4 linked regions of the Homo sapiens genome follow. The protein of the gene in region 3 interacts with the protein of the main gene of each other region in a pairwise test. Each region holds a gene or a part of one and is shown on either strand. Other genes may lie near its edges. The genes, in order: LRP8, ELOVL7, SYNJ2BP and THEM5.

What was found.
Region 1: the proteins of SYNJ2BP (region 3) and LRP8 interact in a two-hybrid assay, tested with the Homo sapiens proteins (one study listed by BioGRID).
Region 2: the proteins of SYNJ2BP (region 3) and ELOVL7 interact in binary tests that used the Homo sapiens proteins (3 or more experiments, as listed by UniProt).
Region 4: the proteins of SYNJ2BP (region 3) and THEM5 interact in binary tests that used the Homo sapiens proteins (3 or more experiments, as listed by UniProt).

The regions. Positions count from the first base shown.
Region 1 is NC_000001.11:53,255,054-53,262,088, forward strand, and holds part of LRP8 (low-density lipoprotein receptor-related protein 8 isoform 1 precursor), read right to left. Parts: coding exon 7,015-7,035; intron 5,553-7,014; coding exon 5,411-5,552; intron 3,419-5,410; coding exon 3,266-3,418; intron 2,412-3,265; coding exon 2,187-2,411; intron 1,429-2,186; exon of another isoform or gene 1,075-1,428; intron 203-1,074; exon of another isoform or gene 133-202; coding exon 64-132; exon of another isoform or gene 44-63; intron 1-43. UniProt on the Homo sapiens protein: Cell surface receptor for Reelin (RELN) and apolipoprotein E (apoE)-containing ligands. LRP8 participates in transmitting the extracellular Reelin signal to intracellular signaling processes, by binding to DAB1 on its cytoplasmic tail.
Region 2 is NC_000005.10:60,834,259-60,841,293, forward strand, and holds part of ELOVL7 (very long chain fatty acid elongase 7), read right to left. Parts: intron 1-7,035. UniProt on the Homo sapiens protein: Catalyzes the first and rate-limiting reaction of the four reactions that constitute the long-chain fatty acids elongation cycle.
Region 3 is NC_000014.9:70,386,083-70,393,117, forward strand, and holds part of SYNJ2BP (synaptojanin-2-binding protein), read right to left. Parts: intron 2,525-7,035; coding exon 2,388-2,524; intron 1-2,387. Other genes in the region: SYNJ2BP-COX16 protein, read right to left, coding at 2,388-2,524. UniProt on the Homo sapiens protein: Regulates endocytosis of activin type 2 receptor kinases through the Ral/RALBP1-dependent pathway and may be involved in suppression of activin-induced signal transduction.
Region 4 is NC_000001.11:151,846,597-151,850,743, forward strand, and holds the end of THEM5 (acyl-coenzyme A thioesterase THEM5), read right to left. Parts: exon of another isoform or gene 3,637-4,147; intron 1,697-3,636; coding exon 1,586-1,696; intron 1,267-1,585; coding exon 1,142-1,266; intron 819-1,141; coding exon 775-818; coding exon of another isoform or gene 524-774; 3' UTR 505-523; downstream 1-504. UniProt on the Homo sapiens protein: Has acyl-CoA thioesterase activity towards long-chain (C16 and C18) fatty acyl-CoA substrates, with a preference for linoleoyl-CoA and other unsaturated long-chain fatty acid-CoA esters.

The sequences.
Region 1 (7,035 bases), on a different chromosome or scaffold from region 3:
CGCTCTTCCCTAGGCCTAAGCAGGGTCTCTCTTTTCTCTTCAGTGACTGGGGGCCACACTCACCTATGGGCACGATGATCCCGATAACAGCGGCAGTGACTGTTGAGCCCATCTTACTGTCTTCATTTGCATCTGCAAAACACAAACATTTGCAGAATGATGCTCTATCACTGTGTGTCCAAGCCCCTACTGGCCTCAAGTGGTAAGAACTACCCAACTGCTGCTCATCCTCATTCTAAAATGATGATCCTGGCTGTTGCCTAATAATTCAGTCTTTCCAGATCCTATCACAACTCCTGTGAGGCAAGCAGGACAGAGGTTATCTCCATTTTACAGGCAAGGAAACTGAGTCTTAACTGAGGGGTTTCAGAAAAGTGGCAGAGCTGGGACTTGAACCCAGGACTCATGTCCCAAGTCCCATACCCTTTCCATAGCATCATGGTAGTAGGAAGCTGGGGGCTGTGCATGGCAAAGTGAGCACTTAGGTCTTTATGTTGCTGATGGACTAGGTCATTTGCCTTTTTCCATCAGTATCTGTTGCTTTGCCAGTATTGTTTTTTGTGAACTGTCTGTCCATCTGCATTATCAGATTATTTTTCATAAGTAATTGAAATGGGACATAGTATAGTGTAGAGGAATCAAAAGCGCAGACTTCTGTGTCAGACTTCTGGGTTCAAGTCCCAGCTCTACTACTCACTACCCATGTGACCTTGGGCAAATTATTATATATTATAAATACAGCACATGGTATTATACTTTTATATCTTTAAAATGGTGATATTACCTACCTCCTAGGGATATGGTAAGGATTAAATGAAATAATTTATCTAAAATGAATATAAAATGCTTGGCACAACTTTGCCTAGTTCTAAGAGGGTGGAGAGTGGGATGGGGTTGTTGAATAGGGTCTAAATTTTAAAAAGATATGTAAAAGCACATTTTAAACTGAAAAGTGCTTGGAAAATTTACTGTCTTTTTGAAAAACTATGCCATGCCATCTTTCTCACTCTTATAACCATCTTCATTGTAACATTTGTGAAGCACTTTATAGTTCAGAAAGCATTTTTCCCTTAGATCCTCCTGACAGCTCCCTGTGGTGTGAAAAGGAGCTATCATCTACACTTGCTGCAGGTGAGATGACTGTCCCGGCAATGGCCCAAGGCCCATCCTCTCTCAATGTGACTGTTTATCCATGTTACTCCAAGAGAATCTAACAGTTAAGGGGAGAAAAAGCTGCACTGCTTGCTTCCAGAGCTAACTGTGTCCTCCCTGCTGTCCTCCCTGCTCTGGGCCACAGCGAACACTGGACAGTGATATTAAAACCTAGAGCATGAGGAAGCCAGTGAGGAGAAGCTGGTGAGAGGCTCTGCCCTCAGATGAGAGGAACTGGAATTCACACATGCTCCATCTGCCTCTGCAAACTTCGGAGTAAGTGCTCCACTCCAAAAAGCCAGCTTCTGCTGGCAAATAGGACCAGTTAGGAAGATGTTGCCAAGCAGCTTGGTTTCTGGGCTGTCCATGTAGGGGAAAAAATTAAAAAGATAGTTTATCCTTTTAAATGAACTCCCTCTGGCAGGTAACTCAATTAAAAAGGTATTTGCTGATTAATGAGATAGAACATTTCTAGCAGTGACAATTACTGCTCCCAATGATTTAATAAGTGGTGAACTTAATTATTTTCATCCCAGGGTTGGAAAGAGGTATAAGGAGACCATGGTTGTAGATATTACTATCTGGGGACCTGCTGTGAACTGAGATCAGAGCTTTCCAAACACAAGGGACACCTCCTCATATACACATCAGAACTTTGTGAAACATAGACACACACACCCTCGCAGAGTCAGCAACGGCTGTGTGCGTGAGCACCTCCAGTTATACCGGTTACACCTTTGTCTATCATGGCAATCTTGTGAAGCAGGTTGTGGAAGGGTGGTTATTTCCACTTTGTAAGAGAAGCAACTGAGGCTCACAGGGTCTCAGCTTCCTACAAGACCCTCTGTAAGGTAGGGGCACCTATGAGTCCTAAATCGCAGGCTGGTACTCTACCTCCCTCTCAGATATGCAGTAACCTCCTCAAAGATATGCAGTATTCAGCTCTGGTAGGTTCTGTCTTATCACATACCCCCTTCCTGGCTTCCCTAGGAGCCCTCCCATGTCATGAAAGAATGCAGAACTCATTTCCTTACAGTGCTGGGAGTGGTTGCTGGTTGCAGGGCTTAGGGTAGACGGGCTGATGCTGGGAGCCCTGGGGACACTAACTGAGCTTGGGACTGCAGCTGTCAGGCTTGGTGTCTCTGTGCTGTGGTTCTGGTAGGTGGATCTGTGGACGGTGGTCCCGGGGGCTCTTGTGGTGGCAGGTACTGTCCTCGTCATGGTAGAAGCTAACGTCGTAGTTGAGGTAGATTGAGGTGCTGGAGGGGAAATACCATGGAGGTCACTTGGACAGATAATTTTGTTGCCTAAGGTATTGCCTCTGAGATATACTTAGGAACTTATCTTCATGGCGTAGCTCAAATGCCACTTCTGTGAAGCCTTTCCTAATCTCCCCAGTGGGCTATGATCTTTTCTTTAGCTGAATGCTAAGCACTTCACTTTGATTCAATAAAGATGAGTCATTAAAACATTGCTGTGGAATTAGTTGTAAGATCAGCAATAAAAAGACTGTAGGGAGGGGAAATCAGATAAATCTAGAAGGATTTTACACTCATATATTGTTATACCAATAGATTGAAATTCTTATTCCACTTTAAACAATTGAACCTGTAAATCATTAATAATGCAGTAGACTTAGGCTCAAATGAAAGGCCTTGGCTATACATCAAGATTAGGACATGAATCTGTGTATGCGGTTGAAGTATTAACTATTAGTCCCAATTATATTGCAAAAGGGCTGCTGTGTAGTGTTTGTTAAGTTCTAGGTGAGAAACAGGCAAATATATAGTTATCTGCATGTACCTGAAGCCACGGCGATTAAGGGTTCTTAACTTGAGGTTTTTAAAGCGTTCCAGAAACTCCCTGAAACTGAATTTAAAATGTTTTATGTATATGTGCATTTTTTCCTTGGGAGTGAGAAAAAGCTTTGGAAGGATCCTGGGGGCATGAGCATTCAAGGAAGGTAAAAAAGAGAAACCCCCAAAAGGCAACAAGTAACCAGGGAAGATGGAAGAAAACCAGCAGCATACTGTGTCCCAGAAGCCAAGGGAAGATTTCAGCAGGGTAGGGTCTGACACTGCCAGGGGCCATCCCTCCTGGAAGGTCTGCTTACCTCGGTAGCACCTCTTCATGTCTGGACCCAGCCACATTGTGTCAGGACAGGCACATGTGTACTTGGGAGAGTGGCTGGAGATCTGAGGAGCAGGAAGGCACAGGTATTCACAGCCTCCATTAGGCTGGACACTCAGCTCACAGGCATCTGGAGCTAATGGCAGAGAGGGAGACAGCTGGGGCACAGACAGGACATGCCAGGTCTTCCTGCCTCCTGAGGATGAGGCTTCTCCCACCTGGCTTGCTCAAAAAGCTTGCCCTATACTTTTTTTTTCACATTTTTTTTCTTTTTCTTTCTTTTTTTATCCCCCAAAGCTTTTGGGATACACGTTTTTTGTTACATGGATGAATTATATAGTGGTGAATTCTGGTACTTTAGCGCACCTGTAACCCAAGTGTAGTGTACATTGTACCTAATGTGTAATTTTTTTTTTTTTAAATCTCTAGCCCCGCTATTACCTTCTCCATTTTTAGTCTCTAAAGTCCATTATATGCCCCTGTGTACTCATAGCTTAGCTATACTCTGTATGCCCCTGTGTACTCATAGCTTAGCTCCTGCTTATAAGTGAGAGCATATAGTTTTTGGTTTTCCACTACTATCATACTTTACTTAGAATAATGGCTTCCAGCTCCATCCAAGTTGCTGCAAAATACATTATTTTGTTCCTTTTTATGGCTGAGTAGTATTCCAAGGTGTATATATGCCACACTTTCTTTATTCACTCATTAGTTGATGGACACTTAGGTTGGTTCCACATCTCTGCAATTGTGAAGCCCTTCTACTTTTTCAATTTTTTTTATGTTTTATGTTTTGAGACAGGGTCTCACTCTGTTGCCTAGACTAAGTGCAGCAGTGCAATCATAGCTCACTGCAGCCTCAAACTCCTGGGCTTAAGAAATCCTCCCACCTCGGCCTCCCGAGTAGCTGGAACTATAGGCGCATGCCACCATACAAGGGTCATTTTTATAGTTTTTGTAGTGATAGAGTCTTGCCTTCTTGCCCAGGCTGGTCCCAAACTCCTGGGCTCAAGTGATCCTCCTGCGTTGGCCTCCCAAAGTGCTGGAATTGCAGGTATAAGCCACCATGCCTGGCCTCCCTACTACTTTTATTGGGTACTTTCCAGCACCATACCTAGTGTTTTATCCCTACACTCTCATTTAATCCTTGCAACAATTCTGAGAGGTGGGGACGTTACATCCCAGACTGACAAATAAAGACACCTAGGCTCAAAGAGAACAAATTCGTCAAACCTATACTCTAGGAATTTTTTTTTTTTTTAAGAGGTAGGGGTCTTGCTCTGTCGCCCAGGCTGGAGTGCAGTAATGCAATCATAGCCCACTGCTGCCTGGAGCTCCTGTGCTCAAGGGATCCTCCTGCCTCAGCCTCTCAGTGTTGGGATTACAGGCATGAGCCACCATGTCTGGACTAGAGATAGAACTTAAATTGAGGTCGGCTGGGCTCCAAAGCCCATAAGCCCGCGGTTTTTATTTTTCCCTGTGCCACATACTATGTCTCTCATTTAAATTTCTAGGTCTAGAATCAGGCACCAATCTTAGCTCCTTACACTCCCTTGCTCTCCCTCTTTCACCCTGGCAGCCAACACTTCAGTTACAGTTAGAATTAATGTATCCTAGTGATAGAGGAGGGGACAACCTAGTAGTAGGATTCCTAGATTCTATTCCCAACCAATAAGCTGACTTATTATATGGCCCTCGGATACATTAGCTTATACTACTGCAGAATGGCTACAAATAGCAAGTTAGATGCAGTGTGTCATGGTGAAAGCAGCTGTGGAACCAGATAGACCTGGGTTTAGGTTTCAGTTCTGCCACCTGCTAACATTATTTTACCTCTCTGAGCTTCCGTTTCCTCAACTGTTAGAAGAGTAATACCCACACTTTGTAGGATTGGCAAAAACAGGACAGTTATGTATTCATTTATACCCAGCCTTATTTCACAAAGAACTTGAGGTAAAATGAGACAAAATATATGATGAAAAAGTACTCTACCAACAAGAGGGATTGTTGTTATTATTCCTGGGGTTGCTGAGTTGTGACCTGAATGTGAACACAGCCTGCCTGGTGAAAGGAGAGGACACAGTGACACAGTCAGGGGACCTGGGACCTAGGACCAGAGACAGCTCACCTCTTGGCTGCTTCAGCTCATGGAAGATGACAATGTCATGTGGGTTGTTGAGGTTCTCAGCCAGGATGGAGATTTCCAGGCCATTGAGCCGATTTGCACTGAAAATGGCCTCGTTCTCCAGGTCTGTCCAGAACACCTTGTCCTGTGGGGTATAGATGCAGAGGATGGGAGGCCTGGAGTGTAAATCCATGACCTCAGTCTGAGGGGTTGGCCCCAAACCATAGTCACAAGAACTTCCCTGAAATCTCCCCTGATCTGTCCTGTCTATGGATTCACGGTGGGGCTCTCAGCCTCTAATCTGTGATGCACGTCTCCTTGTTCCCTTCTATCTTAGAGGATTATTCAGTGATTCTGTGCTTTGAACTGACAGCCACAACATTACTCATTCATGCTGAACTAAGCCTGCTTGCTAGAGCCCAGCAGAAACCCAAGGTTAAATCTCTATAGCATTATCATTACTGGGGCCTGGGACCAAGATTGGAAGGAATGTGTGAGCTATGAGGGTTATGCCTTGCTGGGCTTCCTGTAGCCTCTGGGTATCCACACGAGTCCACATGGTTAGTCCATATAAGCCTAGATGTGCATCTGTCAGCAAATCCACACGTACAGGTACAACTGTGCATCCTCATACACAGATCTAAACACATACCCAAATGTTCATCCACACACAAAAAGCTACATTTGCCCCTAAATATGCAGTCTATATACATCTTGGTATATGTATGTACACACATAAGCACCAGCACTTAGAGGAATGCACACTTTTATTCTGATGCATTTATATTTACCCATGCACATACACATACTTTACATGTACATGCCATGTATATAAACAAGCACAAACACTTGTGTACCAACACACCTGTCCTTTAAAGCAGGGGCTGGACTTAGAGGTGGAGCTTTGCCCACAACTTCAGAGCAGTGCTGAGTAACTTTGCTGCAAGCAAATCCTGCCAATGCCCACCACAGACCATCATCCCTTTGCTTTCCCTCCCCTTGGTGGTGGAGTTAGTTTTCGGGAAGAGGTGAAGGTGTGAGACCTTGGTTGGTTCTGGCTTCTTCATTCCCGGAGAAGAAAAGTCATTAGGGTCAGGGCACAGGAGGGTCTTCGCTCCTCACTTTGCTGGGAGCTTCTTGAGACTAGGATAGTGTCTGATTCACTTCTATGACCCCAGGGTCTGGCAGAGGTCAATAAAAGTGTGCAGAATTGAACAGCATCTCTCAGGCCATTTCCTCCAGTAAATGATTCTAAGGATATGTATGTTCCTTCTTCCTTTCCTCCCTTTACTGGGTGCCTTTTGTATATGGGTTACAGTGCTGGGTGCTGAGGGCACAGAGAGGAAACATACATGCCTAGCAGCTCACCTGTGAGAAGTGCTCTGGGAGAGGGGTCTTGGGAAGAGAGCGTGGGAAAGGCTGCCAGGTGGAGAGTGGGCTGCAGAGCCTTTGTGTGCAGGCAGCTCACAGATTGTTTACAAACAAATCAGTTGGTTTCCCTGTTCCTGTTTTCATTTGAACAAGTCTCAGGGACTCATCCTATTTGAACAAGCATTTTCTAGGCTTCAGCTTCCTAGTGGGCCCTTGCCTCTCCTTACAGGACTCACCTCAAACACAGCTATCCCAAA
Region 2 (7,035 bases), on a different chromosome or scaffold from region 3:
AGCCTCCCAAGTAGCTGGGATTACAGGTGCCCGCCACCACACCTGGCTAATTTTGTTTTCGTATTTTTAGTAGAGACGGGGTTTCACCGTGTTAGCCAGGATGGTCTCCATCTCCTGACCTTGTGATCCGCCCGCCTCGGCCTCCCAAAGTGCTGGGATTACAGGCGTGAGCCACTGCGCCCGACCGGTTCACATTATTAAAATAAACTTAAATGTTATATAGATGTTATTAATGAAAGCCCAATTTAAAATAAGAAGCATGAGCCAGGCAGAGTAGCTTACACCTGTAATCCCAGCTACTTGGGAGGCTGAGATGGGAGGAATGTTTGATGCCAGAAATTTGAGATCAGCTTGGGCAACATGGTGAGATCCTGTCTCTCAAAAAATGATATAAAATAAGAAGTATGAGTTGATTATATACCATTAGTATGGAATGCTAAGTGAAGGTTCTGACTACTTACTACACTATAGCGTAAACTATTACAGTCAGACTAACAGGAGCAGGAATTCTGACTAGTTTTGGTTAGTTGATTTTTAAAAATTTATTTATAGCAAAGAATGAAAAATTTATTTAGATACTATAAACACTTACTTTTTAAAAAAATATATAAATAGGCATTAATTCTCCAATTTTCCAAAGTAGTCCCAAGGGCTGGGCACAGTGGCTCACACCTGTAATTCCAGCACTTTGGGAGGCCAAGGCGGGCAGATCACTTGAGCTCAGGAGTTCAAGACGAGCTTGGGCAACACAGAAAAACCCTGTCTCTACCAAAATACAAAAATTAGCCGGGCGTGGTGGCACACACCCGTAGTCCCAGTTACACGGGAGACTGAAGTGGGAGGATCAATTGAGCCCGGGAGGTGGAGGTTGCAGCGAGCTGAGAGCAAGCCACTGCACTCCAGCCTGGGTGACACAGTGAGATCCCATCTTGAAAAAAAAAAAAAAAAAAGACAGAGTAGTCCCAAGACTGTACTTGAGGAAGAGCTCCTCACCAATATTTTTCTGCTATAAACCATACCTAGAACTTAATCTACAATTTCCAGTTTTAACTTTCTAAGTGAATTAAAAACAAAGCAAAACAAAATAAAACAACTACACACACTTTTAAGGCAAGCTCAGGATATTTTTCAAGTTTTTACAATTTCTGTTTTTATTTTTGAATTTTTTTTTTAGACAGGGTCTCACTCTGTCATCGAGGCTGAAGTACAGTGGTGCAATCACAGCTCACTACAGCCTCGACCTCCTGGACTTAAGGGATCTTCCCACTTCAGCCTCTGGAGTAGCTAGGACTACAGACGCATGCCACCACACCCAGTTATTTTTTAAATTTTTTGTAGAGATGGATGTCTCACTATGTTGCCCAGGCTCGTCTTCAACTCCTGTCCTCAAGTGATCCTCCCACTTAGGCTTCTCAAAGTGGTGGGATTACAGGCGTGAGCCACTGCACCCAGCCATCTTTCTGATTTTTTTAGTTTTCCTGACCCCTTAGTGACTCACTTTTATGGAACCTTTCCAAAGAATTCAACATTCCTTTCACAATAACAATATTCTTTTTTTGCACTTACGTTTCATAAGTTCACGCATATCTAAATTATCTATCACAATAACAAATATAACTGGCACTAACATGTTTGCAATAAATACAATAAATTGTTGTTAAGCCAATAACCCAGCAGTTGGAGAAGGAAGAAGACTACTAGAAGCCACTGTTCATCATGCCTGGGCACCACCCCATGTGCTTATAGGGAAATGAAGAGCATAGGCTCATTGGTCAACTGTTAGATGTCAACGGTATTGTATTTGAATCAGGATGAACCATATGCAAACTGCCAACATCCAACTGTTTATTCACCTACAGAAAGGGCAATTGCATATGTTCAACCATATATATATATACACATTTTATTTAAAAACACTGACTATATTTTATGTTAAATATCACATCCACTACCATTTTTTTCCTTTAGAAGAATGAATAGTGGTTCTCACAGCTTGATTTAAAAAATTCCATTCCACATTGGCTCAGGAACTCACCCTAAGCTACTGAATAATTCGTCATTGGACTCTGGATTCCTAGGAATGCCATTTCTATCTTCTTTCTTTCTTCAAGTTAAAGTCACACCTGTTAGTCACACACGAAGAAGAGGATGAAGGATGAAGCTATCAGCTGTGCTTTCTAGCTAACTGAATGATAAGCAGCAAAGGGATTAAAATGTGGGTCAACATTGTTCGTTGGCTGGTTTATTTCTGAGACATAAATCTTTCTGTCCTACAGGATGCAACACAGCACTGTCTGCCTGAAGAAGGTACAAAAAGACAGGTAAGACTCTGAGGGGCAGAGAAGCCCCTGAACAGACTTAAAATAAGTCACCCTTAAGTAATAAGTGCCCTTTACTTTTGTTCTGCCCTTGTTAGAGCATTTAATTAAAATAAACACACAAACAAATCACAAGCGTGCTATTAGGACAAAACCCAAAAATTTGGGACAGAAAGAAGGAGAAGAGTTGGGGGATGGGGCTGTATTTAGATTAAGGGCTGCTAGTGAAACTCTCTTTGTCTAGATCTCACGTTTCTACCATTGACACTAAAAAATCTAAATTGGGTTTATTTTTATGGTTGCCCTTACGCCCTCACAAAACTATTGTAAGATATCAGAGTCCTAGGGCCTCCTATATTCTCAAAAATATCAACCCAGAGAGTTAGTATTCAGAGTGGGGAGAGCCTAAACCTTGTAATTACACCTAGGTTTAAATCCTGGCTGCATACTTCTACCAGTGTAGCCTGAGCACCCTTTCTGCTTTTTTCACCTTTCTGTACCTGTGCATATGATGAGCCAGACTTTGCTGGCTTCAAAGGATTCATTAGAAAATACAAGTAAAGAGACTCACTGCAGGCTGGGTGCAGTGTCTCACGCCTGTAATCCCAGCACTTTGGGAGGCTGAGGCGGGCAGATCACCTGAGGTCGGGAGTCGAGACCAGCCTGGCCACCACGGTGAAACCCCGTCTCTACTAAAAATACAAAAATTAGCCGGGCAGGCGTGGTAGGGCGGGGGGGTGGGGGGGGAGTGGGGGGTGGGGGTGGCGCTTGTCAGGAGGCTGAACCAGGAGAATTGCTTGAACCTGGGAGGCAGAGGTTGCAGTGAGCCAAGATCACAACATTGCACTTCAAACTGGGTGACACAGTGAGACTCCACCTCAAAAAAAAGAGAGATTCATTGCAACTATTACTTATGCCTAAAAGATGACAAACCTTTCACCCCATAATTTTCAATAAGATGTTTTAAATGTAAATGCAGCCTTGAGTATCCTGTAAGGACAGAGGTACAGATGATGCCCATGAAGTTGATTTTCTGTTTCAAAATTCACATGCAAGCTAAGCATAATCAAGATATCTAATGTAGGCTGGGCGCAGTGGCTCATGCCTGTAATCCCAGCACTTTAGGAGGCCAAGGCAGGTGCATCACCTGAGGTCGGGAGTTTGAGACCAGCCTGACCTAACATGGACAAACCCCGTCTCTACTAAAAATACAAAATTAGCCAGGCATGATGGTGCATGCCTGTAATCCCAGCTACTCGGGAGGCTGAGGCAGGAGAATTGCTTGAACACGGGAGGTTGCAGTAAGCCAAGAGCATGCCATTGCACTCCAGCCTGGGCAACAAGAGCAAAACTCTGTCTCAAAAAAAAGATATCTAATGTAAACAAGGAAGGTAGCTGTCCTTTCCAGATCAGATAGGGAAATGAGATAAAGGCCTGATGGGAGGAGGAGAGGTTTCATAAAGGTGAAATGGCAAGCGCCAGAGAGATTCAAATCTTAACACATCCTTTTCCTTCTTACAGGCTTCCCAGGATTCCCCACTGACATTATGATAAAATCCAAAACCTTTATGGGGTCAAAAAATGCTCTCAGTAAGCCTGGCCTCTGCATGCCTAGGCAACTTCAACTCACACCCTCTTCCTAGTTACTTTAAAGTATCTGCATCTCCCTGATCGCACCTGCACTCTCTCCCTAGATTCTATTTCCCACTCCTCGTCCCATTTCTCAGCTGCCCTAACTCGCACTCTTCCTTCTTTCCTCTCAGAAGGACTTCCTGTCTGCCCGCCTCTGCCTTGCCTCCCCAGGACCTGGTCTGTGTATATCACAGCACAGTTTATCATACTGAACTGTAATTTTGTAACTTACATTTACTTGTCTATAACTCACATGGACCTGGACTGGCTTTAGCAATCTGCCAGCCCCTTTGCCTGACACAAAGCTAACACTCAAATGTTTGTTGAGTGTGCAGCTTCTGAAACTCCCCAGTTTTATCTAGGTTTGGCTCTTTTACCCTACATTAGAAAGTCCAAGAAGCAGGGCTGCTGGTGTTCATGGCTTAAGTAGCTGCTTATCCAGATTGATTAAGATTTGTCTTTAACATGGGGAATTTGTAAGCTATGTGGAAACTTATCTCATTTGAATAATAGTCTGTTTAAAAATATTTATGAGTCAGGTGTGGTGGCTCCTGCCTGTAATCCCAGCACTTTGGGAGGCTGAGGAGGGCAGATCACCTGAGGTCAGGAATTCAAGAGCAGCCTGGCCAACATAGTGAAACCCCGTCTCTACTAAAAATATAAAAATTAGCCATCTTGGTGGTGAGTGTCTGTAATCCCAGCTACTCAGGAGGCTGAGGCTGGAGAATCACTTGAACCCAGGAGGCAGAGGTTGCAGTGAGCAGAGATAGCGCCATTGCACTCCAGCCCAGGCGACAAGAACAAAACAGTGTCAAAAAAAAATATATATATATATATATTTATGATGGGCCAGGCATGATGGCTCACGCCTGTAAGCCCAGCACTTTGGGAGGCTGAGGTGAGCAGATCATCACCTGAGTTCAGGTGTTCGAGAACAGACTGGCCAACATGGTGAAACCCCATCTCTACCAAAAATAAATAAATAAATAATTAGCTGGGCATGGTGGCATGAGCCTGTAGTCCCAGCTACTCAGGAAGCTGAGGCAGGAGAATCACCGAACCTGGGAGGCAGAGGTTGCAGTGAGGCAAGATCGCACAACTTTATTGGTCGACAGAGCAAGATTCCGTCTCAGAAAAAAAAAGAAAGGAAAAGAAATTATGATGGTATGCCAACTTCTATCATTTACAAAAAGAGTGATTTCACTTGCCAATGTAATAATATGTACTTTTAGAAATCAATTAGGAATAATGGAAATTTCAAATTTTTTCAAAGACCAGTGATATAAAATGCCCAACTGGTATTAGTTTTCAACTTTTTGCAACTGTGCATGGTCAAAACTGGATGAGTCACTGAAACACATGTAAGACATATTTCTAAAAGTGTGTTTATGGCATGCTTCTTTCCATGCTACGTGATGTATCTTCTTGAAATTCTGGCTATTCTCAGTTTAACATGCTACCATTTACCATGGCTCCGGAATTCCGTGTTTGGTAAATAGCAACCTTCCAGGCCATGTGCAATGGCTCACATCTGTAATCCTAGCACTTTGGAAGGCTGAGGCAGGAGAATCATTTCAGCCCAGGAGTTCAAGACCAATGTGGGCAACATAGTGAGACTCTGTCTCTATAAAAGATACAAAAAATTAGCCAGGCATGGTGACATGTGTCTGTAGTCTCAGCTACTGGGGACTCTGAAGTGGGAGGATTGCTTGAGTCTGGGGATTGAGGCTGCGGAAAGCCATGACTGTGCCACTGCACTCCCGCCTGGGTGACAGAGAGAGACCCTGTCTCGGGGGGAGAAAAGAGCATCCTTCTGTATCTTAAAACTGATAAGCACAAGTGGCACATCATGGAGAATAAACAAATCTCAAAAATTAGAAAAAATCCTACTTTCTCAATTTGCCTAGAAATTATTTGCAGATAGGCGCTTTCTTTTATGCACATTTGAAAACCCTATGGCAGGTTGAATTGTGTGCCCCAAAGAGGATATGTTGAAATCCTAACCCCCAATACCTCACAGTGTGCTATTATTTGGACATTGAATTTTTGCAGATGTTAAAATGAGGTCATACTGGAGTGGGATGGGCCCTAAATCCAATATGACTGGTGTGTTTATAAGATGGTTATGTGAAGACACAGACACAAAGGGAAAATGCATATGAAGACAGAAGCAGAGATTAGAGTGATGCCAGCACAAGGAATATCAGAGATTGCTGCTGTCACCAGAACCTAGGAGAAGCATGGAACAAATTCTCCCTCAGAGCTTTCAGAAGGGTTCAACACTGCTGACACCCTAATTTTAGACTTGTAGCCTCCAGAACTGTGAGACAATAAATTGCTGTTTTTTCAAGCTACCCAGTTGGTGGTACTTTGTTATGGCAGCCTGAGGAAACTAATACAACATTTAATAATACTGTTCATGTTTAATTGAATTGCTGTTACTTCCTAGAGAGAGAAGTTAGGTAAAATGCATTGATCCTCTTTTTAAAATCGCTTTTAGAAATCTGACAGCATGTATTGAGAACCATAAAAATGACCATACTTGCTGACGAAGTAATTCTACTTCTGGAACAGTATCATTAGGAAATGAGTCCCAACTTGTAAAATGATACAACTGCAAAGATAAGTATTACTATAACTTAGGTTGTTTATAATTTGTTGCTAATATACTTGTCCAACAATAGAGTTTTAGTTAAGTAAATCACATTATAATTACTAGAATACAAACAATATGAGTTCTGAAAATTACATAAGATGAAAAATGCTTACTAGGTATTATATGGAAAACACAGAATACTAAAAAAAATTACTTTCCTTTTTTTTTTTTTTTTTTTTTAAGACAGAGTCTCCTTTGTTGCCCAGGCTGGAGTGCAGTGGCATGATCTCAGCTCACTGCAACCTCTGCCTCCTGGGTTCAAGCGATTCTCCTGCCTCAGCCTCCCAAGTAGCTGGGACTACAGGCATGTGCCAACACACCCAGCTAACTTTTGTATTTTTAGTAGAGATGGGGTTTCACCATTTTGGCCAGGCTGGTCTCAAACTCCTGACCTAAGGTGATCCACCTGCCTCAGCCTCCCAAAGTGCT
Region 3 (7,035 bases):
TATTCTTCATCCACAGAGCCCAGGTTCCAGTGTTCTGAGGATAATGTAATTTATGTGTCAAAATATTAAGCTGCATAGATTCTAACTAAATGCTACACCTTTATTTTAACAACCCACTCTCAGCATTCCTTACAGTACCACTGCCAAGTTGATTCATATTGGATGAATGTCTTTCCTTGGGAGCTAAAGGAAATAATCTGCTTCTAAACTTTTCACTATCCTTTTGAGAAGACAGGTATATTATCACTGTCTCCATCTCACTGATTAATAAACAGGGTCTAGGAGAAGCTTAATGGACTGAAGAGAGGCAGAATAGTCAATGAGAAGGACTGAAATACTGCAGTGCTTGATACTATATTTATATTATGGATCAGCGAGGACACATGCTTAGACATTCTTGAGCTAATTTAGGTGGCTCTAATAGCTACTTGTTCTGATTTTCTTTCTTTTTGGGGGACTAAGTGGAGTCACAGTCTTCCTGAAGAGGCATTCAGAACCATACTGCTGAGCCTGATCACTCAAATACTCAGATGCCAAATGAAGAAAAGGTGGATGTTCTCTCTCTCTTTTCCTTTGTATCTCTGCCTTCAGGTTCTGCTACCAAATGGGCTTCATGGCAGAGAGGTGTTCAATAAGCTGACAACTAAGAAGAGCAAGAGATTTCACACATATGACCTTTAATCACTAATCACCTGAACTGCATGAGAAGTAATGTGAAAGGGAAAATTCAAATGAAACTATATAGCAAAAAATTTTTAAGGGATGAAGCTAACTCATTATAGAGGTAGGTTCAAAATCATGTATCTGAGACCAATACTTAATTCTGCCAATCAAGACTTCTCCTGTCTGTACTTCATTCATTTATTTCAACGTTTTCCCAACGTGGCCATCTTGCCCTATTCAGTTCTAAAAGAAAACAGGGAATAGTTTTCTCCTCTTCGGACCATGGGCTTATGGCCCATCTGGAGAGGATAGGGCTCCGAAGCCCTATCCTATTTCAATTTCCTTTTATTTAAGTCTAGCCCTTTGAAGCCAGCTCTCCCAAGAATATTCTAGATAATATCTCACCCCCTCAGCATTTTTCCATTCTTTATACCAATCATCTGCACTGTTTCCATACAAGTAATAAGCTGGCCATTTTTCACTAGTCCTGAAGATTAATAAAAAAAGAAATTCTACAGAATAATTATCTCCAACTATACTCCCTTATCCCCCAGCAAACTGATAGTATCATAGGATTACTGTGGCCCATGGTAAGGTAGAGAAATGAACAATAGGGCCAGAGTTATATTTTGCATTTTAATAGTTTTGACTGTATGCTTGTTCTAATTTATTTTAAGACCTGAGGTCTGTGGGCCCATATTTATCAGTCAACCTTTTTAGGTTTGCCTGAATTTCTTAACTTGTTCATTTCTTAAACATTATTAAGCACTGTGCTATGATTCAAAAGGTTAAAAAAAGATCTTAGGCCGGGCCCGGTGGCTCACGCCTGTAATCCCAGCACTTTGGGAGGCTGAGGTGGGCGAATCATGAGGTCAGGAGTTCGAGACCAGCCTAGCCAACATGGTGAAACCCTGTCTATACTAAAAATATAAAAAATTAGCTGGGCGTAGTGGCAGGGGCCTGTAGTCCCAACTACTCAGGAGGCTGAGGCAGGAGAATCGCTTGAACCCGGGAGGCAGAGGTTGCGGTGAGCCAAGATTACGACCCTGCACTCCAGCCTGGGTGACAGAGCAAGAATCTATCTCAAAAAAAAAAAAAAAAGGATCTTTTCACTGCCCTTGAGGAAATATTCTGGAAAATAGTAAGATTAATAATTACCATGTAGTATGTCTTCGTAGAGACATTAGCAGGATGAAATGGGAACACAGCGGACAGGTACCCAAATCAACTGCATTCCAAATTTTCATGTTAATAATGGGTGAAAAAGGGCTCTGAGTCTGAAAAGGACACTTAACTCCAACCTTCCTTCTTTCTGTTTTGTGATGTTAAATCCAATTATAAGGGCTGACATTCCCCCAAAGGAAGATACACATTAGTGTTTTAATCAACAAAAGGAGGTGATAAAGTAATGGATGAAAGACAAAATTTGTGGATTTTAAATCTCTTTTCCCCATATGAGTCCCTCGCTGCTTCCTGCCTTGTGCTTTTTGAACAAGTAACTTCACATTCTGGGCTTCACATTCTCATCTATCAGGTGAGCATAATGTTGCCCTCCATGCTCAATGATAGGGTTGGAAAGAATGACTGATCAAAGTTGTTCCCATTCAACTCTACAACCTGTATATTTCCAGATCCAAATCTTTTCAAGGAAAAGGGATAGGGAGGGGTAGGACCTAGGGCTTAGGGAGCAAAGGACAGTGAAGGAGGCCGAAGCCCATTCTCACCGAAAGGATCTTATCACCCTCCTGGAGCCGCCCATCCAGGGCCGCAGCCCCATTTTCTTTGATGCGGCTGACGTAGATGCCACTGTCGTTGGAGACATACTGCTGATCTGTCCCACCGACGATGTTGAAGCCCAGCCCTGAGAAAATCATGGAGGAGTAAAAAGATGGGGGTGAAGAAGAAAGAAAGAGATTAGAGAAGATGAAGAGAAAGGGAGGGAAAGCCTACTGGGGAGGAAAGGCTGATGGAGAGGAGATGCTGGCGAGTCAGCCTGTGATGGAGCTGGTGAATGGTCATGAACAAGGTCAGCCATATCAAGAGTATTGAGTTGCTCACTCAAATGAGGCACGACTGAAAATATAAACACAGTGATCCACCTGTTTTGTTCAATATATAAAGAAAGATCTATATAGAACTTAAAGAATAATGGTGATTACTCTAAGTTCGTTCTTCTTTTTCTTTTTTTTTTTTTTTCAGAGTCTTGCTAGTGGGCATAGTGGTGGGCGCCTGTAATCCCAGCTACTCAGGAGTTCATAGCTCAGTTGCCCAGGCTGGTTATGAGCTCCTGGCCTCAAGCAATCACTATTGCCTTGGCCTCCCAAAGTTCTAGGATTACAGGTGTGAGCCACCATGCCCAGCCTAGATGTAAGTTCTTCTACTCACATTTAGTTTTGATCCTGTTGATGGTATTCAAAGGACCCAATTCCTGACATTCCTGATATTACTACAGCAGGGTTAGCTGTGTTCATCAAAAGAAGCTATGCATTTTTACCAATTATCAAATGAACTGTTCCTAATTTAGTGTGAGAGATTTCTAACCATACCTTCCCTTCCACACTTTCCTTCTCCCAAGCTTCTGGAGAATTTATGTATGATAGTGCTTTAGAAAAATCTCTTGAGAGTTTCTTTTTTTTTTTTTTTTTTTCCATTTTGGTGGTGGAGGCAGTGGTGTAGGTATTGGCAGAGAAACCTCAGAACCAGAAAGGTAACTGCTATTTCATGGTAGGACTAAATCACCAAATTTACTCTCCCTTCCTTCGCTACTTCAAGTACAACCATATATAGGTTGAGTATCCCTTATCCAAAATGCTTAGGACCAAATGTGTTTTGAATTTTGAATTTGGGGGATTTTGGAATATTTGAATTAAACTTACCAGTTGAATATCCCTAATCCAAAAATCTGAAATCTGCAATGCTTCAATGAGCATTTCCTTTGAACGTCATGTTGGCCCTTAAAAAATTTTGGAGTTGGAAGCATTTCAAATTTCAGATTTTTGGATTTGGGCTACTCAATCTATACTTGGGCATAGTAATTGACAACTTTTATTCACTGTAGAAAAAACTGACTACTCGTTGATTAGCAACTCCCCAGTTCCTCTTCCCTAAGTCCTTGGAAACCACCATTCTAATATTTGTTTTTATGAGTTTAACTATTTTAAATGCATATAATTTTAGTTATGCAAGATGAATTAAGTTCTAGAGATCTGCTGTACAACATTGTGCCTACAGATAATACTATATCATACACTGAAAAATCTGTTCGGAGTAGATCTCACGTTAAGTGTTCCTACCACAGTAAAACAAAATATTAAAAGAAAGAAAAAAGAGAAGGAAAGAAAACTGAGTACCAAAGTGCTATTTCTATGGACCAATGACTAAGTGCTGGAAAGGATTTTACTGTACAGAAACCGTTGTTAGGAAAGGATTTTACCTATGCATAAAAAAATAAAAAGGAAAAAGGAACTTCTCTAGGGCTTTCTTAATGTCAGCTACTGGTAGAATTCAGGGGCACAGTGTAAGACAAAGGAGATAGTTTGGAAACAAACCAAAAATCTAGCGGTGCAATTGGAAGGAATAACCATAATCACCAGCCTACACTGTTCTCAATAGAAAAGATACTTAAAGAGACATATGCGGGGGGCCGGGCGCGGTGGCTCACGACTGTAATCCCAGCACTTTGGGAGGCCAAGGCAGGTGGATCACAAGGTCAGGAGATCGAGACCATCTTGGCTAACACAGTGAAACCCTGTCTCTACTAAAAATACAAAAAATCACCTGGGCATGGTGGCAGGCACCTGTAGTCCCAGCTACTCGGGAGGCTGAGGCAGGAGAATGGCGTGAACCCGGGAGGTGGAGTTTGCAGTGAGCTGAGATTGCATCACTGCACTCCAGCCTGGGCGACAGAGCAAGACTCCATCTCAAAAAAAAAAATAAAAAAGAGACATATGCGGGCTTTCTGAAAGTTCTCCCCATTGGTGGGAGAAAAGCTTACACCTGAAGCTCACAGTATTAACATAAGCACTAGCAAATCAATTTGTAATTTAAAGAAAAACATGACCAAACAAAGACACAACAGGAAACATTTAAGTTAAAAAGCATACCTTAGCCAGGCATGGTGGCTCACGCCTATAATCCCAGCACTTTGGGAGGCCAAGGTGGGTGGATCACTTGAGCTCAGGAGTTCGAGACCAGCCTGGGCAACGTGGTGAAACCCCGTCTCTACCAAAAATACAAAAAATTAGACACGCGTGGTGGCACATGACCAACATTGGGAGGCTGAGGTAGGAGGATCATTTGACCCTGGGAGGCAGAGGTTGCAGTGAGCCAAGATTGTGTCACTGCACTCCAGCCAGGGTGACAGAGTGAGACCCCCATCTCAAAAATAAAATAAAATACATAAAAAGCATACCTTGTGCATAAAATCTCTGCAGCTAGATAATAGAAAGAATTTATTCTCTAAAATAATATACATAATAGAAAGTGCTACTTCTGGAGTTTGTGACCTGGCTGGGCAACATAGCAAGACCCTATTCTCTAAAAAAATAAATAAGAAGGTGCTACTTCTGGAAGATGCTATTTTAACTTCCTTGAAGGGCTGGGTATTAAAAATAGTAGCTTAACTTACTAAATGATTTTCTTAGAGCACCCTCAATTTGTATCATAGAAGGTAGGAAGTATTGGAGAAGGTACAGAAATGTAAGATAAGGTGGAAAAGCAGATGGAACAAGATTATCGAAGGTTTTGAAATGACTTCAAAACTGTGACAGCTTTGAACAAGGGGGCCAAGGCCAACCCACCTCTCCCAAGCTGGAACAAACTATGTAGAAAAATCTTTTGATGAAATCCAACACCCTCATCAAATGCTACAGTTGCCTCTGGTGATCTTGGGAACAGGAAGCAAATGTTAAGCAGCTGAATGCAATGTAGTAGTTAGCAACAGAAAGGACTTTGCTACTGGTTATTCAAAGCTAACTGTAGAAAAAAAAGGAAGAGTAGAAGAAATTTTACCGAGATTTACCATAAACAAAAAAGAGCCGTCTACTACACACCCCATCGAAGTCATATTATATAGGTACATTTATAACCCGTTGCTACTTCTGTTGTAAATGAACCAAACTATTTAACATGAGAACTCCTGGACTGACCTGAAGCCCTTTGTTCAGCCAGAATATTTACAGAACTGGGTGTATCTATAAGCCAAAGCATTGCTGCAATAAAAGAGTCACCACAGCATTAAGTAGTGGCATGACCAACTGAACCTGGGCTGTACGGATACCTACATAATCCCCAGTTCACTTGCTCAGTAAAAATTACTGATTGAATCTTATGTGTAAGATGTTGTGTTATCATCTGAGGAAGACATAAAGTTAAACTGCACACTCCCTGCTTTGATCACAAACTGGAGTTTTTCCTTTTTCCTGTCCCTTTAAGATATTGCAGAAGCAAATCAACATTTACTATGTGTTAGGCATTACGTTATGCTCTGAGGAAGATATAAAGCTAACCTGGACAGTTCCTATTTTAACCACAAACCCAAATTTATCCTTTTCCCTGTCCCTTTTAGATATTGTAGAAGCAAATCAAAGTCAGAAGACTTGGTTCTAAGTTTATAACTTACCAGATATGTGGACTGAAGCAAGTCAGTTTACCTCTGATCCTCAGCTTCCTTTTCTACAAAAATAAGAATTATAAATTCTGCCCTGTCTACATCAATGGGTAAGTGTTAGGGGCCAATAACATAAAATACGAAAAAAAATCTTCATAAACTACATAGTAGTTGCTCTATTGGGATAAGGCGCTAGGAGTAGTTGTCAATAAACTAATGGCTGCTAAAGCTCCAAACTAGATAGTTTGACAGAGAAAGAATGAATAAATATACAGTAGAAATGCAAAATCTCCTAAAAAATGGGAAGACAGATTTTAAAATTCCACCCATCTATAAACAGGAACTCAAACTTATTAAGTACGTCTATGGCATGTGACCTAGAAATCCCCCTTAAGAGTAGTTTCTAGCAAGTGTGATATCTAAACTCTGCGGCAATCATCCAGCATATGGACCAACCAATTGAAACAGATGTCAGTTGGAAACCACCAGAAAGGGAAAGGCTATTCAATACGTATCTTGCTAATCATTGGCTATGGCCCAGAAAAATCTTGCATAAGTAGGGTGACCACATATCCCAAAAGCAATTGCCACAAAAGCCAAAATTGACAAATGGGATCAATTAAAGAGCTTTTGCTCAGCAAAAGAAACTATCATCAGAGTGGACAGGTAACCTACAAAATGGGAGAAAATTTTTGCAATCTATCCATCTGACAAAGGGCTAATATCCAGAATCTACAAGGAACTTAAACAAATTTACAAGGAAA
Region 4 (4,147 bases), on a different chromosome or scaffold from region 3:
TTCTCTTTCCCTAAACGCCTGCCCTCCTCAACACCTTGCTCTTCTCCAAAGTCCCTGTACACTTTCACACCTCTGCACCTTTGTCTTACTTCTTACTTCCCTTCTGCCTGGGATATCCTCCTCTCCCCTGCCTGCCTAATGAACACCACTTAACTTTTGAGACAGTTCAGGAAGAGCTTCTTCTAGAAGATGTTTTCTGATTGCTTTTGTAGAGTAAAATTAGCCCTTCCTCCCGCTGAGATGACACTGCACTCATGATGGAAGCCAGGGTGGGTGTGGGAGGAGCGTGATAGGGCACTCTGACTTGGCACCTGGCTCCCGCATTGTGCATCTTGAGACCGGGGCCCTGTCTTTCACTTCTGGGTGCCTGGTGCCTCACACAGTGCCTGACACCTGGCGGGTACTCAGTAAATCTTTTCAGTCGGTGCTGAATGGGAAGGTGGGTATGTGAGATGCCCTGGAAGGATTTTGATTTCCAACCACAGAAAGGCCCTGGGCCGAGAATGGGACTGTGAGACTTTATTTACTCAGAGAAAAGGGTCCTTTCCCTCGCCTCACCAATTGCTGCTTGAGGACCCCTCCCTGCTCTTTGATGGGTCCCAGGCAGGCAGGGGAGGCAGGAGGCAGGAGGCAGGCAGGGGAGGCAGGAGGCAGGAGGCAGGCAGGGGAGGCAGGAGGCAGGCAGGGGAGGCAGGAGGCAGGAGGCAGGCAGGGGAGGCAGGAGGCAGGAGGCAGGCAGGGGAGGCAGTGGCTCTCCTGCAGGCACAGTGACTGTTACTGGGGAGACTCTTCTTCCAACTGCAGCTGAAGGAAAACACCTGCAAGAGAAGGGTGAGTTGAGCTGCAAGAGCTGCACTGAGATGGCTGGAGCTTGATGGACACTCTGAGCATTTGGCTGCAAATTACCCATTACCTGGGTCCTGTCCTTTCGTTACAGGTTGGATAACTCATATATAGAAAAAAAAATCCTAGTTCTGCTCTCCCTTGCTTCATCTGTGTCCCTAGTAGGTGCCCTATCCCACCCCTAAAGAAGCTGGACCGCAGCTTGGGATGAATCATTGGCATCTTTTCTTCCTCCTGTTTGTTCTGGGGGTGGGTGGTGGTGGGACGGGGCCTGGGGCTGGGCTGGGGGCTCCTTTACCTGAGGACTTGGCATAAACTGTCTGCTGGTCTCTGCTGTGGGCGATGCAGGACATGTAAAGCTTCTGGTCCTCAATCTTGTCCAGTTCTACGTCCATTACAACCAGAGAGTCCACGGGGATCAAGCTGGGAGACGAGGCAGCTTAGCCCATCTCTCATGTGAACCCGGTTCCCCATCCCTTCACTCTCTGTGTCCTCTTCCCTCTCTTCATCCCTCCCGGCCTCGAGGACTCAGAAGTGGCCCTGGGCTCAGGGCCTTTTTGTCAGCTCCCAAAGTTGGACAGCAGAGGCTGTGTCCTGGCCAGGGACTAGAGGAATTGCTTGGGAGTGGGCTGGGGAAGGAGAGTGGCAGGCAGGGCTCCTACACCCCAGCTGCCGAGGATGGCCACTTCCAGGGATGAAAAGGTCTGTGACTTTGGCCAATGCCCCAGGGGCCCATACTTACTTTTTGAACCTGATGTTGAGACTTAGTGTGAACAGCCCCTCTCCAGCCAGGAAGGCAGTTTTAGAAAAGGTCTCGTCCATCATGGCTGCCAGGGACCCGCCGTGAGCAAACCTGGGGGTGGGGTAAGGTGAGGAGCAAGGCCTGGGCTGGGGCTGCTGGGCAGACCCCCTCAATGGGCCTTCCCTCCCTCCTGTGGTGATCCTACCTTTCCCTTTCCCTAGACCCTTCCAAACACAGACGTTCAGCCTCAGGGCAGCCAAATAGGAAAGAAGGAAACAGCTGCATCCCATCTGATCAAACCCGTCAAAATCAACTGAGCTTTTCTGTTTTGCTTCAGCATGCGTTTGCAGCCAATGATACAACATTTTATTTCATCAGGGAAATTGTTTTTTTCTGATAAAGTTAATAGAAAACATTTTTCTGGTTCATTACCTAATTGCTGGCAATAATTGCCATAATTTGGAAGGATGGGCATATACAGGAAATGAAAAAGTCCCTGAACTTTTTGACTCAGTCTTTGAGGCACAACCCTGGGCTGTTTCTCACCTTACCAGTCACTACAGCCAGTGCGGGGCCCACATCTCAAGATAAGTAAATGTGAAACATAACTTATGACCTATCAAGGGCTGGCATGACACACTTCTGAGCAGCGTTGCCACAGAAAGCAGAGCGCCTGCTTCAGCAGGCTCAATGCTGAAATTGAGCTGAAATGCTCAAATGCCGCAGACATTTGCTTTATTTAGAATGCATAGAATGGCCAGTCGCAGTGGCTCACGCCTGTAATCCCAGCACTTTGGGAGGCTGAGGTGGGCAGATCACTTGATGTCAGGAGTTCGAGACCAGCTTGGCCAGTATGGTGAAACTCCGTCTCTACTAAAAAATATAAAAATTAGACGGGTGTGGTGGCAAGCGCCTGTAACTCAGCTACTCGAGAGGCTGAGACATGAGAATCGATTGAACCCGGTGGGTGGAGGTTGCAGTGAGCTGAGATTGTGCCACTGCATTCCAGCCTGGGCAACAGATCAAGACTGTCTCAAAATTAAAAAAAAAAAAAAAAGCGTAAAATGTTCATTCTTGCTTTTGCAAGCTTTATGTCAGCTACTTCATGGTTGGCTAATTTGGGAAAATAGGCACCCATTTTAGAATTCAAATAACACCAAGCAGATTTGAGTTCCTGATTTTCAAAAGCACAGCCCATTCTCCACAGAGCCAGATCAGCTGTCCACACTGTACTGCCATGGGTTACCCTCCTGCTGCTGTGACCAGTGGCTTTTCCAGACCCTTCCCTCCCTGCTTCTTTAGTCTCTATCCACCCAGTTGGACTCCTTGTCCCACAGCTCACTACATGTTTGATCTTGAGCAAATTGCTAAACCTTTCTGAGCCTTAGTTTTTCCACCATGAATTTCACAATTCTGATCTCAGCAGATTAAATAAACAAATGTTTGCAAACATAATTTACACACTTCTTAGGCACTTCCCTGTCTGCCTCCCAAATTGCTTGAAAGAGAGTGAAAAGAGTTGGTGTCAAAGAACTCGAAACCAACTCTCTCCTCCTTGTCCTCACTGGCCAGCCTGGGGACCCATTGGCCAGTATGTGGATCTACAGAGTAGCTCTTGGCCAACGAGTAACTCCTCCTTCCCACTCCCCATGGTCTAGGGGCCTGGTGGATACTAATCTCTTCTCTAGACCCCCAACCCCTCAATCCACTGACTGGCCTTAGTGTTGGATGGTCCTCCTCTGCCTCTTTGGCCTCACTTCCATCAGCCCCTAAATAAAAGTCAGCCATGCTTCAGAAAGGAGGGAGTCCATGGCCTGGGCAGGGCTCTGAGCAATTCACTAGTATCTGCACAGCCTAGTGTGTGGAGCAGTGTCCCTGTGGAGGACTCCTTTGGGATGGCCAAGGTGACTGAGGGCTGCAGTTGGCATCCACAGCCTCTGGAGGCCCTGACATCTATTTAGCACTCTGGATTCTATTTAACCCCAGTTAAGCCCCTCTCAGGCTTCAGGACCCTAAAGCCACTCCTGCCCTCTCTTGTCTCTCCCTTGCAGGAGCTCCAGCACCACCTCCAGCCTTCAGTGACTGTCTGGAGCAGGCATCCGGATGGAAGAGAAGGGGGACAACCATGAACTTGGTGACCCACGGTCAGCCTGATTTCCCTTGTGGACACATTTATGCCCAGTGTGCATTCCTCCTGAGGTCTGTTCCAAGTCTGGAGGCAGCAGAGTAGAGTGGAGAGAACAGTGGACTTGGAATCTCACCTCCCAGATTAGAGTCCTGGATCTGACTTTGATTGCTGGTGCTGCCTCGGGCAAGTTACTTTAGCTGTGTGCATCTCCATTTCCCCATGGATAGAACATGGGTTTTGGGTAGAAGTGTCTGATAGCTGTACTGTGCTTTACGGTTCATGAGCACGCACACATAGGCCCATAATATCATATCTCTGGTCACCCTGGCAGGTAGATATTATTGCCCCAGGTTTCAGGTAAGAAGACTAAAGACCAGGGGTCAATTGCTTGCTCAGAGTCCCACAGCCAGCAGCAGCCAGGCAGGACACCAAGT